7 linked regions of the Homo sapiens genome follow. The protein of the gene in region 1 interacts with the protein of each later gene in a biochemical or structural test. Each region holds a gene or a part of one and is shown in the gene's direction. Other genes may lie near its edges.

Region 1 (3,500 bases):
GATCATTTGGCGAGAAACGCTATGAACCCATCCAGGCCACTCCCCCTCCTCCTCCATTGCCCTCGCAGTATGCCCAGCCATCTCAGCCTGTCACCAGCGCGTCTCTCCACATACATTCTAAGGGAGCACATGGTGAAGGTAGGAAGTTCGGAAGTAGACATTTTAACACAGTAATGCTTATGAAGTAAAATTCTGGTGGTTTCTAGGCAAAATGGTTTTTACATTAAAAAATACATGCTTGAAACCTTTGGGCTGGGAACAGTAAAAACTAAGAATTTTGTTAAAAGTATGTCTCCTGTTTTTACAAGACCATTATTTTGGACAAGCCTTTTAGCTAAACAGATTTTAATCTATTTTATGCTAGTCTCTAAATCTTCTGGAAGTAGTGTTTGCCAGTATATGTAAAGATGGTTTGTAAAACCTACTATGTTTTATCTCACACACCCAAATAGAAAAGCCATAATGTTTCATATAAAATGTATCCCATACACCTTGACTTTTGCATTTACATACCAGGTAGATCACATATAGCTCCAGATTATTCATCTTAAGAGCTTTGTAACATTTTACCCTCAGCATATAACACAAAGTGGTTATCTCTTCTGCTGTGGACAGGCATTTTCCTAGCACAGACTTCTCTTATTATTCCCTTAGGAGGCACCTCCTTGGGCTTGTGAGTCTTCAAGCAGATGTGTTATAGTTCTGGATTGAGGCTATCTTTTATTAAGATTTTTTTTCACACATGCCCATGTTTACAGATAAAGACAGTTTTAATTCTTACTTTCCAGTCCTTATGCCTTTTCTCTTTTTTTTTTTCCTCTTTTTGAGACGAAGCCTTGCTCTCGCCCAGGCTACAGTGCAGTGGCGCAGTCTCAGCTCACTGCAACCTCTGCCTCTCGGGTTCAGGTGATTCTCCTGCCTCAGCCTCCTGAGTAGCTGGGACTATAGGCGCACACCACCACGCCCGGCTAATTTTTGTATTTTTTGTAGAGACAGGGTTTCATCATGTTAGCCAGGCTGGTCACGAACTCCTGACCTCAGGTGATCCGCCCACCTCGGCCTCTCAAGAGTGCTGGGATTACAGGCATGAGCCACCGCACCTAGCCTTCTTTCTTTTCTTGCTGATTGCACTGGCCAGGACCTCCAATAAACTCTGAAATGTAAGTGGTGAAATTGGACCTCTTTTGCTAGTTCCTGATTTTAAGGAGGAAGGACCTCATGTTTTATCCTTTAGAATGTTAGCTCTAGGATTTTCGTAGATGTCCTTTATCATGTTTAAGACATTCCCTATATTCAGAGTTTGCTGAAAGCAGTCAGATGTTTTTCCTGCATGTATTAAGATGACCATATGATTTTTCTTCTCGTACTGTGGAAAATTATATTACTATATTCATGAGGTATTTGGATTAATAATTCTCCTGTCTTGTAGTGTCCTTAATTATTTCACAGAGTTCAGTTGGTACTGTGTTACACTGTGGCTGGCAGTGCATAAAAAATCCTGTGGTTCCACTTTTTAACCAATGTTTGGCATCATCAGACTTTTCGGTTTTTCCATTCTAGTGGGTGTGAAATAGTATTTAATGCTTTTTGTTGGTTTTGTTTTACATTTTTCTAATTAATAGTGAGTATCCTTATTATATGATTATTGGGCATTCTAGTTTTCACAAAGACTAGTGCCAATCTTTGGAGGCCAGGAATCTTAGCAGCTGGACCCTGACTCCAGGGCAGCAGGGTATATATATTCATGGCACCACCTGTCCATGCTGCCCTCATCCCTCAGCATCACACCTAGCCTCCAGGGCTCAAGAGTCAGGCTCTGGCTGTGCGACCCACATTTGGGCCTCGACTCCAGCACCAGGACAAGTTAAGCTGGGACAGGGCTATTATAACTTTTTTCAGAAAGTTATTTAAATGCTTACGTTTGTTTTTCAGGTAATTCAGTGTCATTGGATTTTCAGAATTCCTTAGTGTCCAAACCAGACCCACCTCCATCTCAGAATAAGCCAGCAACTTTCAGACCACCAAACCGAGAAGATACTGCTCAGGCAGCTTTCTATCCCCAGAAAAGTTTTCCAGATAAAGCCCCAGTTAATGGAACTGAACAGACTCAGAAAACAGTCACTCCAGCATACAATCGATTCACACCAAAACCATATACAAGTTCTGCCCGACCATTTGAACGCAAGTTTGAAAGTCCTAAATTCAATCACAATCTTCTGCCAAGTGAAACTGCACATAAACCTGACTTGTCTTCAAAAACTCCCACTTCTCCAAAAACTCTTGTGAAATCGCACAGTTTGGCACAGCCTCCTGAGTTTGACAGTGGAGTTGAAACTTTCTCTATCCATGCAGAGAAGCCTAAATATCAAATAAATAATATCAGCACAGTGCCTAAAGCTATTCCTGTGAGGTAAGACTTATGCCTTTGCTCAAAGCATTGGCCCTGTGATTTTTCTCATGTGAGTTTGTTGTAGTTTATTTGACTTGGGACTTTAAAGTGATCTTTTTAACTCAACCTTTAAACTGAAGAGTGTTGTTGCAATGAATGCTGTTACATAGAAGGTCCTCCAGGAGGTACAAGATGTTGGTAAAATAATAAAGCTAACAGTCGTGTATGGTTGGTAGGTATTGTCATCATCCCTGTTTTACTAAGAACTGAGGTTGAGTGACAGTAAGCAGTTTGCCCAGGGTCACAGCTAGAGTGAGGTGAGCCTCAATTTAGCTGCTGGTCATCCGACCTCTGAGCCCATGCTTTTTTTTTTTTTTTTTTTTGAGACAAGAGTCTCCCTCTGTCGCCCAGGCTGGAGTGCAGTGGTGCGATCTTGGTTCACTGCAACCTCCACCCCCTGGGTTCAGGCAATTCTCCTGCCTCAGCCTCCTAAGTAGCTGGGACTACAGGTGTGTGCCACCACGCCTGGCTAAATTTTTTGTATTTTTAGTAGAGGTTTTCACCATGTTGGCCAGACTGGTTTTGAACTTCTGATCTCAAGTGATCCATCCGCCTCCACCTCCCAAAGTGTTAGGATTACAGGCGTGAGCCACTGCACCCAGCCAGGAGCCCATACTCTTAACCAGCCATGACCTTTTGTAACCTCCTGACCTACTGGTAAGGTGCATGTGGAGGACATCTAAAAACATTAAGTATCTATGTTCCTCATTCATTATTTGTTCCACAATGATGCTAAGAAGAAAAATAGAATAACCTCTGACTGTTTAAAGAGCAGCAGTTAGTGAGATGGCTGAGCAAATGAGACAAAGTGAGCCCACCTGGAGCCTCCCTGCAGCTCCTCTTTCCTGTCTTTCATTCCACGGCGATTGACCAGATGGATTCTGGCCATACATAAAAGCTCATCTCAGCCTCCTACAGCCAGTTCCATTTTCACGCCACCATAAAGCAGAAGCACTTGCAGGCAGGGAGAACCAAAGGTCAGGATGGCCACCTGAGTCTGCTTTCCAAGAGAAAGGATGGTTATGGCGGTCACTGCCTTCCTAGCTCTGCA
Region 2 (3,500 bases), on another chromosome or scaffold:
TTTTCTTTTTTGCAGCTCAGTGGAAAATATATACATCTGTATCCAATGTTGATAGATCTAGCTGGAGCTTAGATTCTCCCTTCCCGCTTCTTTATCTCCATCTTCTCTTTTATTCAGCAAACACACCCAAGTATTTCCCATCTTTATATGTAGATACAGTTTTTTATACCCCCACACAACTTTCCAGCTGAATCCTTTTTTTATTCCTCTTTAGAACCAAGCACCTAGGAAAATATCAGCTAAATTAGCTAAGATATCTCACCTTCTCACCTCCCATCCACTTCTAAATCCAGTATAATCTGCTTCTGTTATTAGTGAAACACAATCAATTTCTACCTACTTTACTATAGATTTGTAAATGGGTATATTTCTATCATTTGCGTTAATTGATATTTCCAGTGCTTCTTCATCCATTTTCCCTCCTTAGATATCTTATTAGTACCTAAAGCACAATATGTCAAAATCTGATCTCATCACCTTACCTCCAACCCCACTGTATTCCCTATATTCCTCCTTTTGATGAATATCCATACCTTATTCAATTATTGACTGAGTTACTGTGCCCTGTAATCTCACATTTCTCTGCATTTACACTTGGTAAAACTTTTCCCTCTTTTTCATTTGCATAGTTCTTGAAGCCTCTTCCAAAATGTGGATCCTCTTAGAGAAGCCTTACTTCACCACTTTCCATTAGTCTCAAATTAATAGCCAAGAGCATGCCTTTATTGTAACCCTTCTCACAATGAGCTATTAATATTTGTGTGCTTACTTGCCATCTCTTTACCACATGACAGAATGGCATGTTCTTAGCAAATAATAATTAGTTAAGTTTGTGAATAAATAAATATGATTTTCCACCTCATTAGGCCTTCAATAGATCATTCCAAAGAGATCAAAGGATTCATTTCCAAGATGGGATAGACATCACAGTGGGCCAGCAACAGCCAAAAACTTGAAAGTGTTTGCTAATCTAAAACTATAAAGAAAATACTTGATAAAATGTTTTACATGTTCAATTTTAGACATATGCCTTAGAGTAGCTACACATTATGTACATTATTTCTACTCATTCAACTCCAGTTTCATCACTGCTTTATCACGAAGAGTACAGAAATACGTGGTAAATGTCCTTAGGTTAATTATTTTATAAGCTCTCTAAATAAGAAATTATTACATTATTTGAGAATTCATCACCATACAATTTCTAACATTGAATGTTCAGATATCATTATATCTTCTCTTATTCAGTGATGAGTATGAGCTTCACTTACAAAGTATACTTTGGCAAACTCCAATGCCTAAAGGAGCTGAAGACATAAAAATAAATGAGTAAAGAGTGCCAGGAACAGGAATTTAGGGTGTGATGGTTAGAATAGGAGAATTCTTTTGGTTGTGAACTGCTCTCCCCATGCATCCAAAAGCACTTGTGTTCCTCAGCTCTGGCCTATTCTTTTAATGCACAAATTTAGGCCCTGCATTGGCAAGGACTTCTGATTGGTTTCCAAGAAAATCCAAACACCAAAATTTTTGTGTAGAATTTTTCAATTTTTAAGACTGTGAGTGAGCCAAGAAAAACTTTTTCTCACGTCCTATCTAGCGCGATTATGACCCTTAGTTACTATGTGTAGAACAGTGAAAGAACAGAAAAAAAAGTCATCAAAATTACATTTGTCACAGGTGATGAATAAATACTTTGCATGTAGATGGAGTCACTGATTTAACCAATCATTTCCTGAAGTCTGAGTTGTTGATTATGACATGGTATGATCATATAAATCAAATTTAAACCCAGATCTGTGCATACTTGAAAATAATTATTTCTAGGTAGTTTGTTATCAAGTCAATGTTATCTTATATTAGTGAGTTTTCTTATAGATTAGAGTAATGGCACCATTTAATCGTGCCACAAACTTCTGTGGTGTGTGTTTCTGTATGCATATGCTTTTTTATTTCTTATTATTTTTCTTTTATTATGGTAAGAACAATTAAAATGACATCTACCTTCTTAACAGGTTTTGAAACATACAGTGGACCCATGAACAATAGGTTTAAATTATGCTCGTCCACTTATGCACAGACTTTTTTCAATAAATATATTGAAAAAATTTGGGGAGATTTGTGAAAATTTGAGAAAATTTATAGATGAATTGCATAGTGTAGAAGTAAAGGAAACCCTAAGAAAAAGGTATATCATGAGTGCATAAAGTATGTTTAGATACTCCACTATTTTATCATTTACTACCATAAAATATACACAAATCTATTATAAGAAATTAAACTTATTAGAGGGTACAAGATGGCCAACTAGACACACTCAGGAAGCACCACTTCCACTGAGGAAGCCCAAAATATTGAATAAACTAACATACTTCGAGCATATCTTTTGAGAGAAAACACTGAAAGTCAATAGAGAGGTGACACAGACACTGAGGCTGAAGAGAGAGAAAGCTGGAAACCCAGTGCAGGGTTGTTGAACACCAGAGATAGTTTCCAGCCCTGAGTGGCTCCTAGCTAAGGGGTGAGTAAAGTGGCAGTGGGACAGCCTACTCTCACTGTTGACATCTGGGATCCTACCTACAAGAGAACCCACGACCCCCAGAGACATTGGAACAGGCAGGGGCATCTGCCCAGAGAGTAGGCAGAAATAGAACTACAGCCAGCCTTGAACCCAGGGGGTTTTGCATGTTGGGTAGCTGCAGCAGAACGCAGCCATAGGCGCCCAACATCCAAGGCTCTCTTTCTTCCACCAAGTAGCTCTCAACTCACCTGACTTCTGAGCGAAGAGACAGCGGGGCCAACTTTCCTGTGAGCTGGGACACATCTGTATTGTAGGCCCTTCTGCCCGCCAGTCCCTCCCAGTACTCCTGCCTGGCCACACCTGCAAGAATATGTGCACAGCACAGCCTCCACTGCTCAGCCTGAGGGTTTTTTCAAGGACCCCCACCTGAGTACTTCCTCAGTATCCTTGGAGCACTTCAGATCCCCCAGTGTAGCTACTGCCTGAACCAGAGGGGCCAGACAGTGGAGACACAGGCTAGTCCCAAAACCCCAGGGCTGCAGTGCATAGCTTGGGAGTGTGAGCTGAGATTGGTGCCCAGCACTCAAGCAGAGGAAGAATTCTGAATCTCAGAACACTGAGAGGGGTGAGATGCACGGGTTCATGGGCCAGTGCAGAATGAGACATGCCTCATTTCATAGGCCCAGTCCAGGAAGGCTGTGTCCTGTCTGCCAGCTGCTGCCTCTGCCTAAGGGAGCTCCATGGCTCAGAACAGTTTCCTAACAAAAGAAATGCAAGTGTGGCACCAGTGACCAGAGCGGGAGATTGGGGGGGTGTCCCCTATGGCCCAGGCACAGGCCTGTTAAGGGGGTCATCTCTCTTGCCCGCTGCCACAAGCACTGTTGTAAACACACTGAAAAACAAAAGAGTTATGTCCCCGAGTAACAGCTTATCTGCCAGCCATTACTCTTAAGCACCATTTACTGGATCACAGCTCAATTTA
Region 3 (3,500 bases), on another chromosome or scaffold:
ACAGAGTTTCGCTCGTCGCCCAGGCTGGAGTGCAATGGCACGATCTCGGCTCACTGCAACCTCACCTCCTGAGTTCAAGCAATTCTCCTGCCTCAGCCTCCCGAGTATGCATGCCCAGCGAATTTTGTATTTTTAGTAGATACAGGGTTTCTCCATGTTGGTCAGGCTGGTCTTGAACTCCCAAACTCAGGTGATCTGCCCGCCTCGGCCTCCCAAAGTGCTGGGATTACAGCGTGAGCCACCGCGCCTGGCATAGTTTTTAGTATTTAAATTAAAATGTCGGGGCCGGGCGCAGTGGCTCATGCCTGTAATCCCAACACTTTGGGAGGCCGAGGCAGGCGGATCACGAGGTCAAGAGATTGAGACCATCCTGGCCAACATGGTGAAACCCCGTCTCTACTAAAAACACATAAATTAGCTGGGCTTGGTGGCATGTGCCTGTAATCTCAGTCACTCGGGAGGCTGAGGCAGGAGAATCACTTGAACCTGGGAGGCAGAGGATGCAGTGAGCCGAGGTCACGCCACTGCACTCCAGCCTCGCAACAGAGCAAGACTCCGTCTCAAAAAAAAAAAAAAAAAAAGTGTTGGTTTATCCATGTATACCATTGATTAAATCAGAGATTCTGTGAGCCTGGGTGGAAAGTTGTGGAAACCAGAAGATCTATGCTGGTAAATACTTGGGACATTTTATGTTTAGTGTTGAATATGCTACCAAATATGGGATTTAACATTGAATTTTTTTCTTTTTTTTTTTCAACTTTTATTTTAAATACAGGGGGTCCATGCGCAGGTTTGTTACATGGGTATACAGCACCCAGGTAGTGAGCACAGTATGCAGTAGGTGGCTTTTGACCCATGCCGCCTCCTCTCCCGCTCTGGAGGTCCACAGTGTCTGTCCTTCCCATGTTTATGTCCATGCGTGCTCAGTGTTTGGCTCCCACTTACAAGTCAGAACATGCTGTTGGTTTTCTGTTCCTGTTGCATTAATTTGCTTAGGATTACGGCCAGCGGTTCCATCCATGTTGCTGTAAAGGACAAGATTTCATTCTTTATTTTTATTTATTTATTTATTTATTTATTTATTTTTTAATTTATTGGAGACAGAGTTTCACTGTTGTCACCCAGGCTAGAGTGCAATGGTGCGATCTCGGCTCACTGCAACTTCCGCCTCCCAAGTTCAAGCAATTCTCCTGCCTCAGCCTCCCGAGTAGCTGGGATTACAGGTGCCCACTACCACGCCCAGCTAAGTTTTTGTATTTTTAGTAGAGGCAGGGGTTTACCATGTTGGACAGGCTGGTCTTGAACTCCTGACCTAAGGTGGCCCACCCGCCTCGGCCTCCCAAAGTGCTAGGATGGCTTATGAGCGTGAACCACCGTGCACAGCCCAGATTTCATTCTTTGTTATGGCTGTGTAACACTGAATTTTTCAAACCTTTTACTCCTTGGTTCCTGTTAATCCTCTCTAGCTAAGATGACTGCAACACTGAAGGAAATGTTATTAGATTTCTAAGCATTTTAATAATTATAAGGAATTGGTTTGTGACCCAGGTGAACATCTCAGTTTGTCCCCTGGTTTTTCTTAGCTGCCCTCAAACCCATGGATTTGTTCAGTACTTGCATGCATAGAAAGCATCTCTTTGTTGGGATTATTTGTACTTAAGAGGTTTATTCTTCATTCACCAAATATCCTTTATTTAAAATTTTTTTTCTTGAGCCAAAAATATGTGTGCAAGTTAGTCTCTTACTAATCATATAGAACCGTGCCTTATTTTGAATGTTCTTATTCTGAATTAGAAGGTGGAAGCAGGAGCACCTGTCACAGCTCCCTGGAATCGACACCCTGCTCCGAATTTCCTGGGGACAGTCCCCAGTCCTTGAACACAGACTTGCTGTCGATGACCTCAAGTGTCCTGGGCAGTAGCGTGGATCAGTTAAGTGCAGAGTCTCCAGACCAGGAAAGCAGCTTCAATGGTGAAGTGAACGGTGTCCCACAGGAAAATACTGACCCCGAAACGTTTAATGTCCTGGAGGTGTCAGGATCAATGCCTGATTCTCTGGCTGAGGAAGATGACATTAGAACTGAAATGCCACACTGTCACCATGCACATGGGCGGGAGCTGCTCAATGGAGCGAGGGAAGATGTGGGAGGCAGTGATGTCACGGGACTCGGAGATGAGCCGTGTCCTGCAGATGATGGACCAAATAGCACACAGTTACCCTTCCAAGAACAGGACAGCTCTCCTGGGGCGCATGATGGGGAAGACATCCAACCCATTGGCCCCCAAAGCACTTTTTGTGAAGTCCCCCTCCTGAACTCACTCACTGTGCCTTCCAGCCTCAGCTGGGCCCCAAGTGCTGAACAGTGGCTGCCTGGGACCAGAGCTGATGAAGGCAGCCCCGTGGAGCCCAGCCAAGAGCAGGACATCCTAACCAGCATGGAGGCCTCTGGCCACCTCAGCACAAATCTCTGGCATGCTGTCACTGATGATGACACAGGTCAGAAAGAAATACCCATTTCTGAACGTGTCTTGGGGAGTGTGGGAGGACAGCTGACTCCGGTCTCTGCCTTGGCAGCCAGCACTCACAAGCCCTGGCTTGAGCAGCCTCCACGGGATCAGACATTGACGTCCAGCGATGAGGAGGACATCTATGCCCACGGGCTTCCTTCTTCATCCTCAGAGACGAGTGTGACAGAGCTCGGACCTAGTTGCTCCCAGCAGGACCTGAGCCGGCTGGGTGCAGAGGACGCCGGGCTGCTCAAGCCAGATCAGGTATGTGGGTTCGGGTGGTGGGAAAAGTAGCTGAGGCTTCTTTCTTAAGGGTAATAATTGTCAAGACTGATTATTTTCCTTCTCATGGAAAGAAATTCTATTCCTACTGCAAAATCCGTAGGCCAACTCTGTTTTCAAGTCTGGGTTTCAGGGGATTTCCAGCACAGGGACTATGAATGGCTTGAACTACTTCTGACCTGTTCTACCCTGCTCAGTAACCTGCCTCCCCAACCAAGGTAGCGTCTTGCTGTTTCCTCTGACCCCACAAGTGCAGGCTGGTGTAGGCACTTACTGTTAGCCATCGTAGGGCAGGGCTGAATTGGCCTGGGGCCATCTCAGAAAACCAGTGGGCAGAGGACTGTCCACCTGTGGAGTAGAGAAAGCTCTGAGCAGTTTGGAGGCAGGGAGTCTCCTGTCCTTCTCCTCACACCCCTCCAAGGAACCATCTGCAAGAGCACGAGGCCATTTCCAGAACTGCTGTCTCCTCAACCTCCGAACAGTGGCTCCAAGGCTCCCCTGCGAGCTGTACAGGAACCAGTTTGGAGTAACCAGTCTTTGTAGGTCCACCCAGCACATGTAACTAGGAGATGACTTTTAACTGTCCTTGAGCATTTTATATTAAAAGTGATTTTTTTAAAAGTGCCTACTTCCCTTAGCAAGTAATTATTACTAGATATATTTGTTTCAAAACTGTGTCTTGCCCTGTCTCCTACTAACTGTCGATGTGAG
Region 4 (3,500 bases), on another chromosome or scaffold:
AAGTTATACTAGAGGAAAACATTGTTTTTCTAGGCCCTCAAGACAGAATATTTGAGTGTCAGGCCGTAACAGCAGAGTTAGAACCAGAGAAAAAAGCTATAGTAGCCGGGTGCAGTGACTCACACCTGTATCCCAGTACTTTGGGAGGCCAAGATGGGTGGATCACTTGAGCCCAGGAGTTCAAGACTAGCCTGGGCAATGTAGCAAAACCCACGTCTAAGAAAAATACAAAAAATAGCCGTGCATGGCGGCATGCACCTGTAGTGCCAGCTATTCAGGAGGCTGAGGTGGGAGGATGGCTTGAGCCTGGGAAGTGGAGGCTGCAATGAGCCATGACTGTGCCACTGCACTCCAGCCTGGGCAGCAGAGCAGGACCCTGTCTCAAAAAAAAAAAAAAAAATTACAGGAACTAACAAAAAACATTTAAGAGAATTACCACCCCAGCCAAGTGAAAAGATGCATCCTTTCAAGGGGAGAAAGAGGAAGGGTGGAAGGCAGCAATGTATGTCCTGGGAATCACCAGGAAAGTGAACTTCACAGTGCTCAATAAATAATTGTGTTGGCTGGGCATAGTGGCTCACGCCTGTAATCCCAGTATTTGGGAGGCTGGGGCGAGAGGATCTCTTGAGCTCAGGAGTTGGAGACCAGCCTGGGCAATATAGCAAGACCTCATCTCTACTAAGGAAAAAATAAATAAAAAGGGCCGGGCGCGGTGGCTCACATCTGAATCCCAGCACTTTGGGAGGACAAGGCAGGCGGATCACCTGAGGTTGGGAGTTCGAGACCAGCCTGGCCAATATGGAGAAACCCCGTCTCTACTGAAAATACAGAATTAGCTGGGCATGGTGGCGCATGCGTGTAATCCCAGCTACTCAGGAGGCCGAGGCAGGAGAATCGCTTGAACCCGGGAGGTGGAGGTTGCAGTGAGCCGAGATTGCGCCATTCCACTCCAGCCTGAGCAACAAGAGTGAAACTCCATCTTAAAAAAAAAAAATTAAATTAAAATAAATAAATAATTGTTGCATGTTGCCTGAATATGAACAGGTATTCTATGTAGTACCTATGGTTCCAAAGTGAGTGAGTAGCAAGCCCCCTTACCCCGAGACTGCCCTGCCTTCCTCCCTGCCCTTTGTCCCTTCTTACTTTCTGATGACAAAAGTCAAGGAAGGAGGAAAACTCCAGAAGTTTCATATCTTCTCTGCCTGGGCTTCCTTGACCAGATGCTTTCCTGGGAGACCAGGATAGGGGATGTGGAAGGAATACTGTTGACGAGCCCCTCCTCCCCAGGCACAGTGCCTCACCCAGACCTCCCTCCCTGCAGCAGGGAGGTGACCTCCTTATCCCTGTTCTACAGCTGAGAAGGCTGAGGCTCAGAAAGGCTGGGCAAGCTGCTCGAGGTCCCAGAGACGGGCGGGGGCAGGGCTCCAGCCTAGAGCTCTAGCCACTGACCCTGTGCTCTAAGTGTTCCTGTGTTACACACACTTATCTTTCTCCCCACCTCCTAGCATCCCACGGCTCTGTATTGTGTGCCTGCTGGCCCTGGGATAAGAGCTGCAGCTTCAGGGCTCCCCAAAGCTGGGTTCTTGGTATACAGAGGCTGCACTATGTCGGGGGAAGCTGCTGTTCACCTGTGCACTCTATTTTATGTAACACCGATCTCTGAGTCTCACTCTCTTTCTTTGGGTTATTCTTCCAGCTCAAGAGGTTTGGATATGGACCTTCTTCAATTCCTGGCCTTCCTCTTTGTCCTGCTTTTGTCTGGGATGGGAGCCACAGGCACCTTGAGGACCTCCCTGGACCCAAGCCTGGAGATCTGTATCCTTTGGGGTTGTAGTTAATGAGCTGTCTTTGAGAGGTCTATAAATGAGGTTCTTCTACTCAGGGATTCCAGGGATAAGCAGGCCCAGCTGGCGGGAACAGGGAGAAAAGGTGAGGTGCTCTAGCCAGACCTTGAGCAAGTCAGGTCTCTCCGGAGCTTCAGCTTCCGCGTATGGTAAATGGAGATGACAAGGCCCATCTCTAGACTGCAAAGGCTCAGTGAGGACTGTGCATGGCCTGGCACCTTGTGGGCAAGATCCTGGGTGGAGACTCAGGAATTCTGGATTACTGGCCCATCTGGACCCTGGTGAACTGGGCCACCTGCTCCAGGCCAGGCCTCAAGGACACGAAGATGAATTACAACAAGTCCCCTGGCTTTGAGGTGTCCATAAGCCCAGGGGGAGAAAGTATCCAAACAAATGATCATGTTACTCTGTGACCAGTGCTCTGATGGGCACAGGAGGGGTCAGGGAGAAACACTGTGTGATGGTTTTTGAGCCAGGCCTTGAAAGGAAAGAAACTCCTAGAGGAGGGTGAGGGGCATCCTGGGCAGAGAGGGTGCAGCGCGAGCAGAGAGGTGGAGGCTCTGGAACAGTAGAATGCTTGTGGAGACGGCAGGAAGACCACAGCAAAGGGAAGGCAGGAGCCAGGTCTGGAGGCTTGGTTTCAGGCTTCTGGGTGTGGAGCGCCATGGGAACTGGATGAATAGTGCGTTGCAGGTCCATGCACTTGTCAGTTTGTTCATTTCCTGGAGGCTTCTAGCCCTGGGTGTCCATGGCCCTTGCAGATACTTGCTGGTCAGGAATGAGCCTTCTGAGGCAAGACTGCTGGATTGTCCAGGCAGGGCTATTGATGCCAGCCCCTTAACTTAATTCTGCCCAGACAAGAAGATGTTTGAGGTGAAGCGGCGGGAGCAGCTGTTGGCACTGAAGAACCTGGCACAGCTGAACGACATCCACCAGCAGTACAAGATCCTTGATGTCATGCTCAAGGGGCTCTTTAAGGTGTGTGCAGGCAGGGGGCAGCTCATGGCAGGTCCAGTCTTTGATCTAGGCACTGATGGGTAAACAGGAGTTCCCTAACGGGTTGGTGTTCAGGGACAGGGGAACTGCGCACACGTAAGACTTGAAGTGGGGTTTAAATAAATGGGGATGGGAGCAGTCTGTGATGGGCACTGCGAAGCCACTCAGCCCTGGCGGGATTCCCTCAGGTGCTGGAGGACTCCCGGACAGTGCTCACCGCTGCTGATGTGCTCCCAGATGGGCCCTTCCCCCAGGACGAGAAGCTGAAGGATGGTATGGTCTGCCCTGCCCCGCCCTGTCCTCCGCACCACCCGATCTTCTCTAGCTGCTCCTTCTCTCCTGTTCTTGTCACTCTTTTTTTCTCCCCGGAAGTGCCCTCTTGTGGCACCTTCTAAGTGGTCCCCTTGGGCAGATGGGCGTTTCGTGAGTGGCCTCCCTAATTAACTGGCTACTTTTTAGCAATAGCATTTCTTTTTTTTTTTTTTTTTTTTTTTTTGAGACAGAGTCTCACTCTGTCGCCAGGCTGGAGTACAGTGGTGTGATCTCGGCTCACTGCAACCTCCACTTCCCGCGTACAAGTGATTCTCCTGCCTCAGCCTCCCAAGTAGCTGGGACTACAGGCACATGCCGCCACACCCAGCTAGTTTTTGTATTCTTAAT
Region 5 (3,500 bases), on another chromosome or scaffold:
CTCGGAGGCTGAAGCAGGAGAATGTCTTGAACTCGGGAGGCAGGTTCAGCAGTTGCAGTGAGCTGAAATCACGCCACTGCACTGCAGTCTGGGCGACAGAGTGAGACTCCATCTCCGAAAAAAAAAACAAAAAAGAAAAGAAAAAAGACAAAAAAAGAAAAAAAGAAACCAGGCGTTCTAGCCACCAGGGTTCCTAGCTCTGCTCCTGACTCGCTGTGCCCCCTCCCTCATCTGGGCTTCAGTTTTTTTGGTACCTGTCAGTCGGGAGGTTGGATTTGATAATCTCCAAGCCTTCTCTGCCTCTGAAGTTCAAGGTGCAGAGGTGGGGGGTCCCAGAGGCAGGCTGAGGCCCCTGACCTCCGGGCTCCCTGCCCATGATGGTGTCTGCTCCACAGTACGTCGCTGCCCCGCCCTCGGGACTCCATCCGCAGCTGTGCCCTCAGCATGGACCAGATCCCAGACCTGCACTCACCCATGTCGCCCATCTCCGAGAGCCCTAGCTCCCCTGCCTACAGCACTGGTATGGCCAGCAGAGGGGGTGGAGCAGGTGGAGGGAATCTGTTGTTGAAGACTTCTGTCACCTATGTGTGGTTATGTGTGTTTCCGCCTCTTTTATGAGGCGCGACCTTTACCAAGAGAAAGAACTGACACTGGAATCCTGCTAACAGAACTGTTGATATCAACATATAAGATGTATCCATGGTTTGTTTATTTAGCAACTATTTATTTGTTTTTGTGACAGTTTTGCTCTTGTGGGCTGGAGTGCAGTGGTGGGATCTTGGCTCACTGCAACCTCCGCCTCCTGGGTTCAAGCGATTCTCTTGCTTCAGCCTCCCAAGTAGCTGGGATTACAGACCCCTGCCACCACGCCTGGCTAATTTTTGTATTTTTAGTAGAGACGGTGTTTCGTCATGTTGGCCAGAGTGGTCTCGAACTCCTGACCTCAGGTGATCCACCTGCCTTGGCCTCCCACAGTGCTGGGATTACAGGCGTGTGCCACCATGCCTAGCTAATTTTTGTATTTTTAGTAGAGATGGGGTTTCACCATGTTGGCCAGGGTGGTCTCGAACTCCTGACCTCAGGTGATCCACCCGCCTCAGCCTCCCAAAGTGCTGGGATTACAGGCATGAGCCACTGCACCTGGCCTCTATTTTTCTTAATAGACTTTATTTTTTAGAGCAGTTTTAGGTTTGCAGCAAAATTAAGTGGAAAGTACGGAACACTGTGCTTTCTTATAAATACGAAGAAAGTTTCTCTGTTAGAAACATTCCAATAGATCATTTCTGGAAAAAAAATAAAAAGAATGTTTTCAACAGGCCGTATTGTCCACGTGGCAGGCCAAGTGTCACGAGAGGGGGCTGACTCAGGAGGAACTTTCGCCTAGGGTGGCATTCCATTGAAGTGTTGCTGTCTGTATCGGTTGTCACAAATCCTTCCCTAAACACAGAGCCACCAACTTTGTCATAACTACAAACTTGATTTCAAAGCAATACCCTGAGTATAAAACCTAAAATTCCTTGCCAGAATGACTTATTGGACAGTTTCTAAGCAATCTGGTATAGTAAAGCAGCCCAGATGTCAAGACTTAAATCTCAGCTGTACCACTTGCTGGCTGGGTGACCTTGGGCAGGTTAGTGCACCTCTCTGAGCTTCACTTTTCTCATCTGTAGAATGAGGATTATAAAAGTACTTACTTCATAGGACATTGAAAGGATTAAATAGACTGAGGTACAAAGAAGGGTCTTGCAGGCACTAAGAGCTTAGTAAATATCGCCTTTGAGGTTTGATGATGGTTTTACTGTCATTATGTCTCCAGCATGTTGCCAGCTCCTAGCACACAAGGTTTAGCAACAAATCATTATTGCTAATTCAGGCCGGGCATGGTGGGGCACATCTGTAATCCCAGCTACTCAGGAGGCTGAGGCACAAGAATTGCTTGAACCTGGGAGGCGGGGGTTGCAGTGAGCTGAGATCATGCCATTGCACTCCAGCCTAGGCAACAGAGCGAGACTCTGACTCAAAAAAAAGTTAGCCAGGCGTTGTGGCACATGACTGTAATCCCAGCTACTCGGGAGGCTGAGGCTCAAGAATTGAAGAATTGCTTGAACCCAGGAGGTGGAGGTTGCAGTGAGCCTAGATGGCACCACTGCACTCCAGCCTGGGCCACAGAGCGAGACAGTGACTCAAAAAAAAAAAAAAAAAAAAAAAAAAGGAAATCATTATTGCTAATTCGTCGAGAAACAATCACATGTGGCACAAGAAACTCCAGCAGGTACTCAGCTTCCCCGGATCACTGAAGCTCCTCCAAGCAGTGGGTCCCCAAGGCTGCAGCAGCCTCAGGGTGGGGCCATGCAAACTCCTGGGTCCTGGTGATTTCAGAGCATCACCTGGGCTGGTCAGCTTGCCAGAGTCAATCGGCCCTGGTCTCTGGTGATGCAGGGAGGTGGGGACATCACCTCTGTACTCCCTACAAGGAGTGAGGGAGCCTGTTCTTTGGGAAGGGGTGCGGGAATCTCACTTTGGTGGGGAGCTGCTATAACGGGGCCTCTCTCTCTACCTTTCTGCAGTAACCCGTGTCCATGCCGCCCCTGCAGCCCCTTCTGCCACAGCATTGCCTGCCTCCCCTGTCGCCCGCCGTTCCAGTGAGCCCCAGCTGTGTCCCGGAAGTGCCCCAAAGACCCATGGGGAGTCAGACAAGGGCCCCCACACCAGCCCCTCCCACACCCTTGGCAAGGCCTCCCCGTCACCATCACTCAGCAGCTACAGTGACCCGGACTCTGGCCACTACTGCCAGCTCCAGCCTCCCGTGCGTGGCAGCCGAGAGTGGGCAGCGACTGAGACCTCCAGCCAGCAGGCCAGGAGCTATGGGGAGAGGCTAAAGGAACTGTCAGAAAATGGGGCCCCTGAAGGGGACTGGGGCAAGACCTTCACAGTCCCCATCGTGGAAGTCACTTCTTCCTTCAACCCGGCCACCTTCCAGTCACTACTGATCCCCAGGGATAACCGGCCACTGGAGGTGGGCCTTCTGCGCAAGGTCAAGGAGCTGCTGGCAGAAGTGGATGCCCGGACGCTGGCCCGGCATGTCACCAAGGTGGACTGCCTGGTAGGTGCTGGCTGTGCACTGGGGTGGAGGGAGCATCTCTGTTCTGTGGGGCAGGGCAGTGAGAAGCTGGCTCCCAGATTCCCCAAGTACAGCAGGTGGGCCTGGATTCTAGCTCCATGGCTGTCCTTTGCCTGCTCTGTGACTCTGGGCTGGTCATTTAGCCTCACTGGGCCTCCAGTTTCTCCTTTTAAAAAGGCCGGGGGTGGTAGCTCACACCTGAATCCCAGCACTTTGGGAGGCCGAGGCGGGCGGATCACCTGAGGTCAGGAGTTCAAGACCAGCCTGGGCAACATGGCGAAACCCCGTCTCTACTAAAAATACAAAAATTAGCTAGGCGTCGTGGTGGGCGCCTGTAATCCCAGCTACTTGGAAGGCTGAGGCAGGAGAATCACTTGAA
Region 6 (3,500 bases), on another chromosome or scaffold:
GCCTGTAATCCCACTTTGGGAGGCCGAGGGAGGCGGATCACTTGAGGTCAGAAGTTCAAGACCAGCCTGGCCAACATGATGAAATCTCATTTCTACTAAAAATACAAAAATTAGCTGGGCTTCTTGGCACACACTTGTAATCCCAGCTACTCAGGAGGCTGAGGTGGGAGAATCGCTTGAACCTGGGAGGCGGAGGTTGCAGTGTGCCGAGATCCTTCTACTACACTCTAGCCTGAGTGACAGAGCAAGACCCTGTCTCAAAACAAAACAAAACAAAACAACAAAAAAAAGTATTATTAAAATCACATACATAGGTTCTCTTTTAAAAAATGTTAGGCAAATAAATGTAGAGCCCCTTTGCTCACCATCCTCCAATCCCAGTTGCCTTCCCAAAGGTAACATGGTTGTCAGGCTGGCCTGAATGGGCTCAGAACATTTTGTGTGGGCAGCTGCATGCCTGTAGGGGGAATGGCGTTTGTGTGTGTGTGGGGGTGTGTGTGTTAATACTTTGCACTTCATTCTGTTAACTTGCTTTTTTTACTCAACATTACGCTTTCGAAATCTACCATACTAATACGTAGAGCTCTAGTTCCTTTTAAGCTGCTGTATAGTTTTCTTTTTCTTTTTTTTTCGCGGGGTGGAGCAGAGTTTTGCTTTTGTGGCCCAGGCTGCAGTGCAATGACACAATCTCAGCTCACTGCAACCTCTGCCTCTCAGGTTCAAGCAATTCTTCTGCCTCAGCCTCCCAGGTAGCTGGAATTACAGTCACCCACCACCATGCCCATCTAATTTTTGTGTTTTTACTAGCGACGGGGTTTCACCATGTGGGCCAGGCTGGTCTCGAACTCCTGACCTCAGGTGATCGGCCCTCCTCGGCCTCCCAAAGTGTTGGGATTATAGCCGTGAGCCACCGTGCCCAGCCTGCTGTATAGCTTTCTATCGTGTGAGCATGCTCTATCTGTCTTGCCCATTTCTCTGCTAGTGGACACGTGGGTTGTTTCTGGTTTGTCACTAATGTGCTGCTCAGGTCTGCATCCCAGTGCCTACGCGCCTGTGCTTTCCTAAGCCATATGCTCAGAGGTGAAGATGCGGGGTGACATAGTTCACACATTTCAGGTTAGAAAGATCCTGCCAAATTGTCTTCTGCGGTAGCAGCACTGGCTTACCCTCTAACCAGCAGCATGTGTGAAACTTTTCCCCCGCCATCTCACCAACTTTGCCCAGTTACCACATTATTTCATCGTGCCAGTGTCCTGGAGGAGAAATGGCATATCTGTTGTAATCTGCATTTCCCCCCTGATTTTCAGTGCTCTTTCTAATGCTCTCTTCTCTCTCTAGTTTTGGGCCTTTTGTCCTAAGGGGAGCTTACTGAAGGGGAGTCTAGAGTCTTGCCTAGGACAAGTCAATTCTGACTCCATCGGCTTCACTTCTATTGCTAAGCAACGAACCACCCAAGTAGGCGCAGACTTGGAAATGGGCAAAGTTGAAAAAAACCTCTTAAGATGTACAGAATTGCTGGGTGCGGTGGCTCACGCCTGTAATCCCAGCACTTTGGGAGGCCGAGATGGGCGGATCATGAGGTCAGGAGTTTGAGACTAGCCTGGCCAACATGGTGAAACCCCGTCTCTACTAAAAATACAAAAATTAGCCGGGCATGGTGGCACGTGCCTGTAATCCCAGCTACTCAGGAGGCTGAGGCAGGAGAATTGATTGAATCTGGGAGGCGGAGGTTGCAGTGAGCTGAGATCACCCCACTGCGCTCCAACCTGGGTGACAGAGCGAGACTCTGTCTCAAAAAAAAAAAAAAAAAAAAGATGTACAGAATCTTGCTGTATAGAAGGGAAAACTGAGGCTCAGAGAGCGGCAGGGAGGGGCCCATACATGGTGATCCACATGTCAGTGTACTGCTGTCCCTGTTCCACACAGCCCACCTCTCCTGCTGCTCTCTTTCTCCAGGACCCCGGTGCCATTTGGAGGACCCCTCGTGGGGGGCACTTTTCCCAGGCCAGGCACCCCCTTCATCCCGGAGCCCCTCAGTGGCTTGGAACTCCTCCGTCTCAGACCCAGCTTCAACAGAGTGGCCCAGGGCTGGGTCCGTAACCTCCCAGAGTCCGAGGAGCTGTAGCCCTAGCCTGAATCTTCAGTTCCCCAGTCTCGGGGGCCTGGTAACATCCGGAGCCAAGACTTGTGGACAGCACTTCACAGTTGAAGAAGGGCCTTCACACACAAAACCTGATTGCAAATGGCTTCAGAGGTCACCAAGTTCAGTCGTCCCAAAACATGGGTGTGTTTCAAAATTACCTGGGGATGTTGTTCCAAATCCAGACAACTGGACTGTCCCAGACTTGCAGCATCAGAGTCTCCTGAGTCGAGGAATCTGTATTATTAATAGCAACCAGGGCCGGGTGTCGTGGCTCACGCCTGTCATCCCAGCACTTTGGGAGGCCGAGGCAGGAGGATCACCTGAGGTCAGGAGTTTGAGACCAGTCTGGCCAAAATAGTGGAACCCCGTCGCTACTAAAAATACAAAAATGAGTCGGACATGGTGGTGCATGCCTGTAATCCCAGCTACTTGGGAGGCTGAGACAGGAGAATCACTTGAACTAGGAGGCAGAGGTTGCAGTGAGCCGAGATTGCGCCACTGCACCCCAGCCTGGACAACAGAGTGAGACTCCTTCTCAAAAGTAAATAAATAAATAGCAACCAGTACTCCAGGTGATTCCAGCATAACTTATCCATGGTTTGTGTCATTAGGAGTCCACATCCACACCTCTGCTCTTTCCTGTTCCTGTAGTGTACACTCCCCCGGTGACAGGGTGCTCACTGGCACCCCATCTTCCTGTGAATAACTCAAATAATTAGAAAATGTTCCTTTTACTGAGATGCAGTTGGTCTTCATCTATTCATGCTCTAAACAGTTCCTAAGCGCTGACTGTGCGCTAGACACTGCCAGGCCCGGGCCTCGAGGAGGAAAAGACAGTAGGGAAGACATTATAGAGCATGAAGTCACCATAATTTTCCCTAAAGCATGCTTATTGACAATTGAGGAACAAAGTGTTGTGGAGCAGAAGAAGGAGTCCCTCACCCTAGGTGTGAGATGGGATTCTGGAAGCTTCCTGAAGGATTTGAGTGGGACCTTGTGGGAGGCGTGAGAGTCCATGAAGGGGGTGTGAGGGGGAGGGTATTTCTGGAAAGTGGACCAGCATGTGCAAAAATATGGAACTGAGCACGGGTGCAGGGTGTTCTGCAGAAGGGAGAAGGCTGTGCTAGAGGAGCCAGTGAGGGCCAGCATGGGGTGGGCTTCACTAAGGAAATGGGGAAGGTTTTAGTGATGGGTCTTGCTGGGTGCTGTGTGGGGCGCATATTGGAGAAGGGTAATGCCAGAAGCCAGGAAGCCTGCAAGGGATGAGGCCATGGGAATGGAGAGAAGGGGCCACCCACTGGGCACCTAACAGGACAGGTGCAAAGTGGGGTGCTTATTAAGATTCCTTCTTTCCACT
Region 7 (3,500 bases), on another chromosome or scaffold:
AAGCTTAAGGGAGCCCATAGCAGGAGTAGCTATCCAGATTGGGTGGGGAAGAAAAGGCTTTCTGAAAGAATGAGTCTAAGCATTTTGTAACCTTCTAATTTTTATGTCAGTTTTTTCATCTATAATATACTTTACAATGGCTGAGTAGTGTTTTATAATATGTAACTACCAGAGTTTAATCAGTCCCCTGTTATTAGACATTTAGGAGCATTCCCTGTTGTGTCGTTTTAAATAATACTGTAATGGATATCTTTATATAATCTTCAATTATTTTCTTAGATAACTTTTACTTGGAAGTGGAATTTCTGGGTCTGAGGATTAGAAATATTTTTTAAGACTTTTAACATGTATCATGAAATTGCCCTTCAGAAAGTTGTACCAGTTTATACTTCCAGCAGTAGTAGTTGAGAATGACCAGAAACCGCAGACTTTGCCAACTTGATAGGAAAAAATGATATCTCATGGCTTACTTTGCCTTTGTTGATTTACCTGTATGTATCATAGTAATTCATAGGCTGACAGCAAAATATGCCTAGCTTAAATTTAAATTTTATGATGATAACTGAACAAAAGAATCTATGTTGTTACATAGATTTCAGAATCATCATATTTAGCTATCGTATAATGTTTCATACCATTGCTATATCATGATTTATTTAACCATTCTCTGTTTTTTGGATGTGTGAATTATTTCTGATTTTTCTCCATTATCAGTAATATACTGCTTTGAAAAATGGATACCTTCAATTTTATTCTTTTCTTCAATCCAGAATATTATTATATTTAAGATCTCTGTCTCATTTGTTTTCTAAACACGTAAGTTGTAATAGCAAATTCAGAGAAATTGAGGATAGGCTATTTAATGAGATCAAGTACCTTAAGAAGCTTGTATGTTGACACTAGTCCTAGCAACTAACTTCTTTTTAATTATTGTGGCCAGAAACACCAGATGAAAATGGTAAAACCCAGAGAGCCGATGATTTTGTCTTGAAGAAAATAAAGAAGAAAAAGAAAAAGAAACACCGAGAAGACATGCGAGGAAGACGCCTTAAAATGTACAATAAGGAAGTACAAACCGTCTGTGCTGGCCTGACCCGCATCAGTAAAGAAATTCTCACCCAAGGACAAATAAATAGCACTTCAGGACTTAATAAGGAGTCCTTCAGGTATCTGAAAGATGAACAGCTGTGCCGATTAAATTTGGGTATGCAAGAATATCGGGTACCCCAGGGAGTACAAACACCTTTTATGACTCACCAGGAACATTCTATTCGTAGAAATTTCTTAAAAACAGGTACTAAATTTAGCAACTTTATTCATGAGGAACACCAGTCCAATGGTGGTGCTCTTGTCCTTCATGCTTACATGGATGAACTCTCATTTTTGTCTCCAATGGAGATGGAGAGATTTTCTGAGGAGTTTCTTGCTTTGACATTCAGTGAAAATGAGAAAAATGCTGCTTACTATGCTTTAGCAATAGTGCATGGAGCGGCTGCTTATCTCCCAGACTTCTTGGACTACTTTGCTTTTAATTTCCCCAACACTCCAGTGAAAATGGAAATTCTGGGCAAGAAAGATATTGAAACAACCACCATTTCAAATTTTCACACTCAGGTAAGATAAAAATTGTTGTTAAAAATTAGTAAATACGATTCTAAACAGAATTAACCTCTTTCTGTCGCACAGCACATACCAGCACATTTTTGATAACAAATTTATGGTAATAAAGGTGCTTCAAATTGTTTGTCTCTTCCTCTAATTGAAAAATCTTAATTACTGAGTTCGGGTGGGGCTTCTTCTTTACTGGAGGGAATGCTTTATACATGTTATACATCATTACAAATCTTTATGGAAAACTAGCTTGAAAACTTACCTGGTCTTTCACAAATCGGGTAATGTTAGTATGGAGGATGTGATTGAGATCTGTTAGTCTCAGGATAACTTTAGTTAAGATTTGCTTTTATATCATAATAAAACACGTGAGGGCATGGGCCTGTTTATATGCCAGGTTTTTGGAGTTTTTATATCTCTTTCAGTAACTTGTTGGCAGTCCATCCCAGAAATATACCCCATTTATGTGACTTGGAAGTGTCATTAGGAAGACCGCCATAGCCTCTGCTCCTTCTGCCTATACATTGTTGTAGGTGAAGACATTTTTTGAAGCCTTGCATGGGCAGCTAGGCTTAAGTCAGCAGGGAAACGTCTGCTTCTTAACCAGTGGTTTTAACCAAACATTTTTTTCAGTGAAGTTATTTTAGGGAATAAGAAGTTAATAATGTGTCCTAGTTTTTTTCTTACTTGCTTTTCTCGTAAGAATTGAATATAAATGGTCAGCTATAAGTTTCTGCAGTATATATTATAAATTCAACTTTAGTGGAGACTTTCACTTTTTAAACTTTTATGATTATATGTTCTGTTTTTTCAGGTTGTCTAGTAATTTGCTGCCATTCTTTTCCCTTAATATATATATATTTTTTTAGGTAAATAGATTGTTGCCGTAATAAGACTCTCAGCTGCCTGAATTATAGTGGTTTCAAGCCACTTAGATTTATTTGAAACCTCCTCTAACTTGAATCTTTTTAGTGAGTCTTACCATCTTTGCCTCCAATGAGGGGAGTATCCAGTTTAGATTTATGAGCTTCAGAATTTCTCTAATTGAAGTTCTCTCTGCAGTAGAGAGAGCAGGAGCAGCCAATGTGGAGAGGTCGCAAGATGGGGCTGCCCAAGATGTTGGAACACCATGTGCAATAAAGGGCTTCGTCTTGGATTTTGGCCTTATTACCACAACCAGGTACCGAAGTGCTGACTTTTGTAGTAGATTTTCTTTTTTCATTTTCATTTTTTTTTTAAGTTTTGCCCTTTGAAGGTCAAGGAATCCTATTTTTATAAATATTGCAGATGAGACTGAAAACATTTCTCCTAATATAGTCCATAATCCCCATAAGTTCCCTATTTAACAAGGAAAGATATTGCTGAGAGCAGAATCAACATGCTCTATCATTTTTTTAGTTTAGAAAAATGCAGCAAATTTTCTCTTTTGATAGACCAACAAGCATTTCTGAGAAATAAGCCAGAAATTTGGGGGAAAACTGTCCCAGTTTTGTAAGGGTGTCTTTTTAACATTCATATTAGTTAAAGTGGATCAAATTTGTATGTCAACAGACAGTATCCAGTCTAAATAGTTAATAAAAGAAAATATCTTGAAATATTCCCTGCTGATTTTTGTCCTCCAATTAATTTTTTAAAATGGAGCTGAAATTTAAATGACTGTACCAACAACTTACCTTGATACTTACTTTGAGATTTAAAAAATAACCACTTTTTAAGAACATTTCAGATTATGATTAAATTAGATATTAAACGCTTCAACCACATAAGAATATTGAGGACTGTTGAATGAGTCCTGTGCTCTGGTGGTCCTGGAACTTAATTTTATTTATGAATTTTCAGTCATTAGAGAAGAGTATGGTGTGGATATGGGAGGTTGGATTAGCCGACTA

The links.
Region 2: the proteins of TJP1 (region 1) and SLCO1B1 interact in a test that uses a peptide from one of them, tested with the Homo sapiens proteins (one large-scale study listed by IntAct).
Region 3: the proteins of TJP1 (region 1) and TECPR2 interact in a test that uses a peptide from one of them, tested with the Homo sapiens proteins (one large-scale study listed by IntAct).
Region 4: the proteins of TJP1 (region 1) and CCDC134 interact in a test that uses a peptide from one of them, tested with the Homo sapiens proteins (one large-scale study listed by IntAct).
Region 5: the proteins of TJP1 (region 1) and SH2D3C interact in a test that uses a peptide from one of them, tested with the Homo sapiens proteins (one large-scale study listed by IntAct).
Region 6: the proteins of TJP1 (region 1) and MYOZ3 interact in a test that uses a peptide from one of them, tested with the Homo sapiens proteins (one large-scale study listed by IntAct).
Region 7: the proteins of TJP1 (region 1) and RSBN1 interact in a test that uses a peptide from one of them, tested with the Homo sapiens proteins (one large-scale study listed by IntAct).

What each region holds. Positions count from the first base shown.
Region 1 is NC_000015.10:29,707,469-29,710,968, reverse strand, and holds part of TJP1 (tight junction protein 1), read left to right. Parts: coding exon 1-138; intron 139-1,932; coding exon 1,933-2,410; intron 2,411-3,500. UniProt on the Homo sapiens protein: TJP1, TJP2, and TJP3 are closely related scaffolding proteins that link tight junction (TJ) transmembrane proteins such as claudins, junctional adhesion molecules, and occludin to the actin cytoskeleton.
Region 2 is NC_000012.12:21,179,694-21,183,193, forward strand, and holds part of SLCO1B1 (solute carrier organic anion transporter family member 1B1), read left to right. Parts: intron 1-3,500. UniProt on the Homo sapiens protein: Mediates the Na(+)-independent uptake of organic anions.
Region 3 is NC_000014.9:102,432,441-102,435,940, forward strand, and holds part of TECPR2 (tectonin beta-propeller repeat-containing protein 2), read left to right. Parts: intron 1-1,794; coding exon 1,795-2,771; intron 2,772-3,500. UniProt on the Homo sapiens protein: Probably plays a role as positive regulator of autophagy.
Region 4 is NC_000022.11:41,807,179-41,810,678, forward strand, and holds part of CCDC134 (coiled-coil domain-containing protein 134 isoform 1 precursor), read left to right. Parts: intron 1-1,696; 5' UTR 1,697-1,712; coding exon 1,713-1,815; intron 1,816-2,700; coding exon 2,701-2,822; intron 2,823-3,028; coding exon 3,029-3,113; intron 3,114-3,500. UniProt on the Homo sapiens protein: Molecular adapter required to prevent protein hyperglycosylation of HSP90B1: during translation, associates with nascent HSP90B1 and the STT3A catalytic component of the OST-A complex and tethers them to a specialized translocon that forms a microenvironment for HSP90B1 folding.
Region 5 is NC_000009.12:127,744,167-127,747,666, reverse strand, and holds part of SH2D3C (SH2 domain-containing protein 3C), read left to right. Parts: intron 1-395; coding exon 396-520; intron 521-2,567; coding exon 2,568-3,103; intron 3,104-3,500. UniProt on the Homo sapiens protein: Acts as an adapter protein that mediates cell signaling pathways involved in cellular functions such as cell adhesion and migration, tissue organization, and the regulation of the immune response.
Region 6 is NC_000005.10:150,674,751-150,678,250, forward strand, and holds part of MYOZ3 (myozenin-3), read left to right. Parts: intron 1-1,956; coding exon 1,957-2,125; 3' UTR 2,126-3,500. UniProt on the Homo sapiens protein: Myozenins may serve as intracellular binding proteins involved in linking Z line proteins such as alpha-actinin, gamma-filamin, TCAP/telethonin, LDB3/ZASP and localizing calcineurin signaling to the sarcomere.
Region 7 is NC_000001.11:113,795,477-113,798,976, reverse strand, and holds part of RSBN1 (lysine-specific demethylase 9), read left to right. Parts: intron 1-940; coding exon 941-1,614; intron 1,615-2,673; coding exon of another isoform or gene 2,674-2,676; exon of another isoform or gene 2,677-3,500. UniProt on the Homo sapiens protein: Histone demethylase that specifically demethylates dimethylated 'Lys-20' of histone H4 (H4K20me2), thereby modulating chromosome architecture.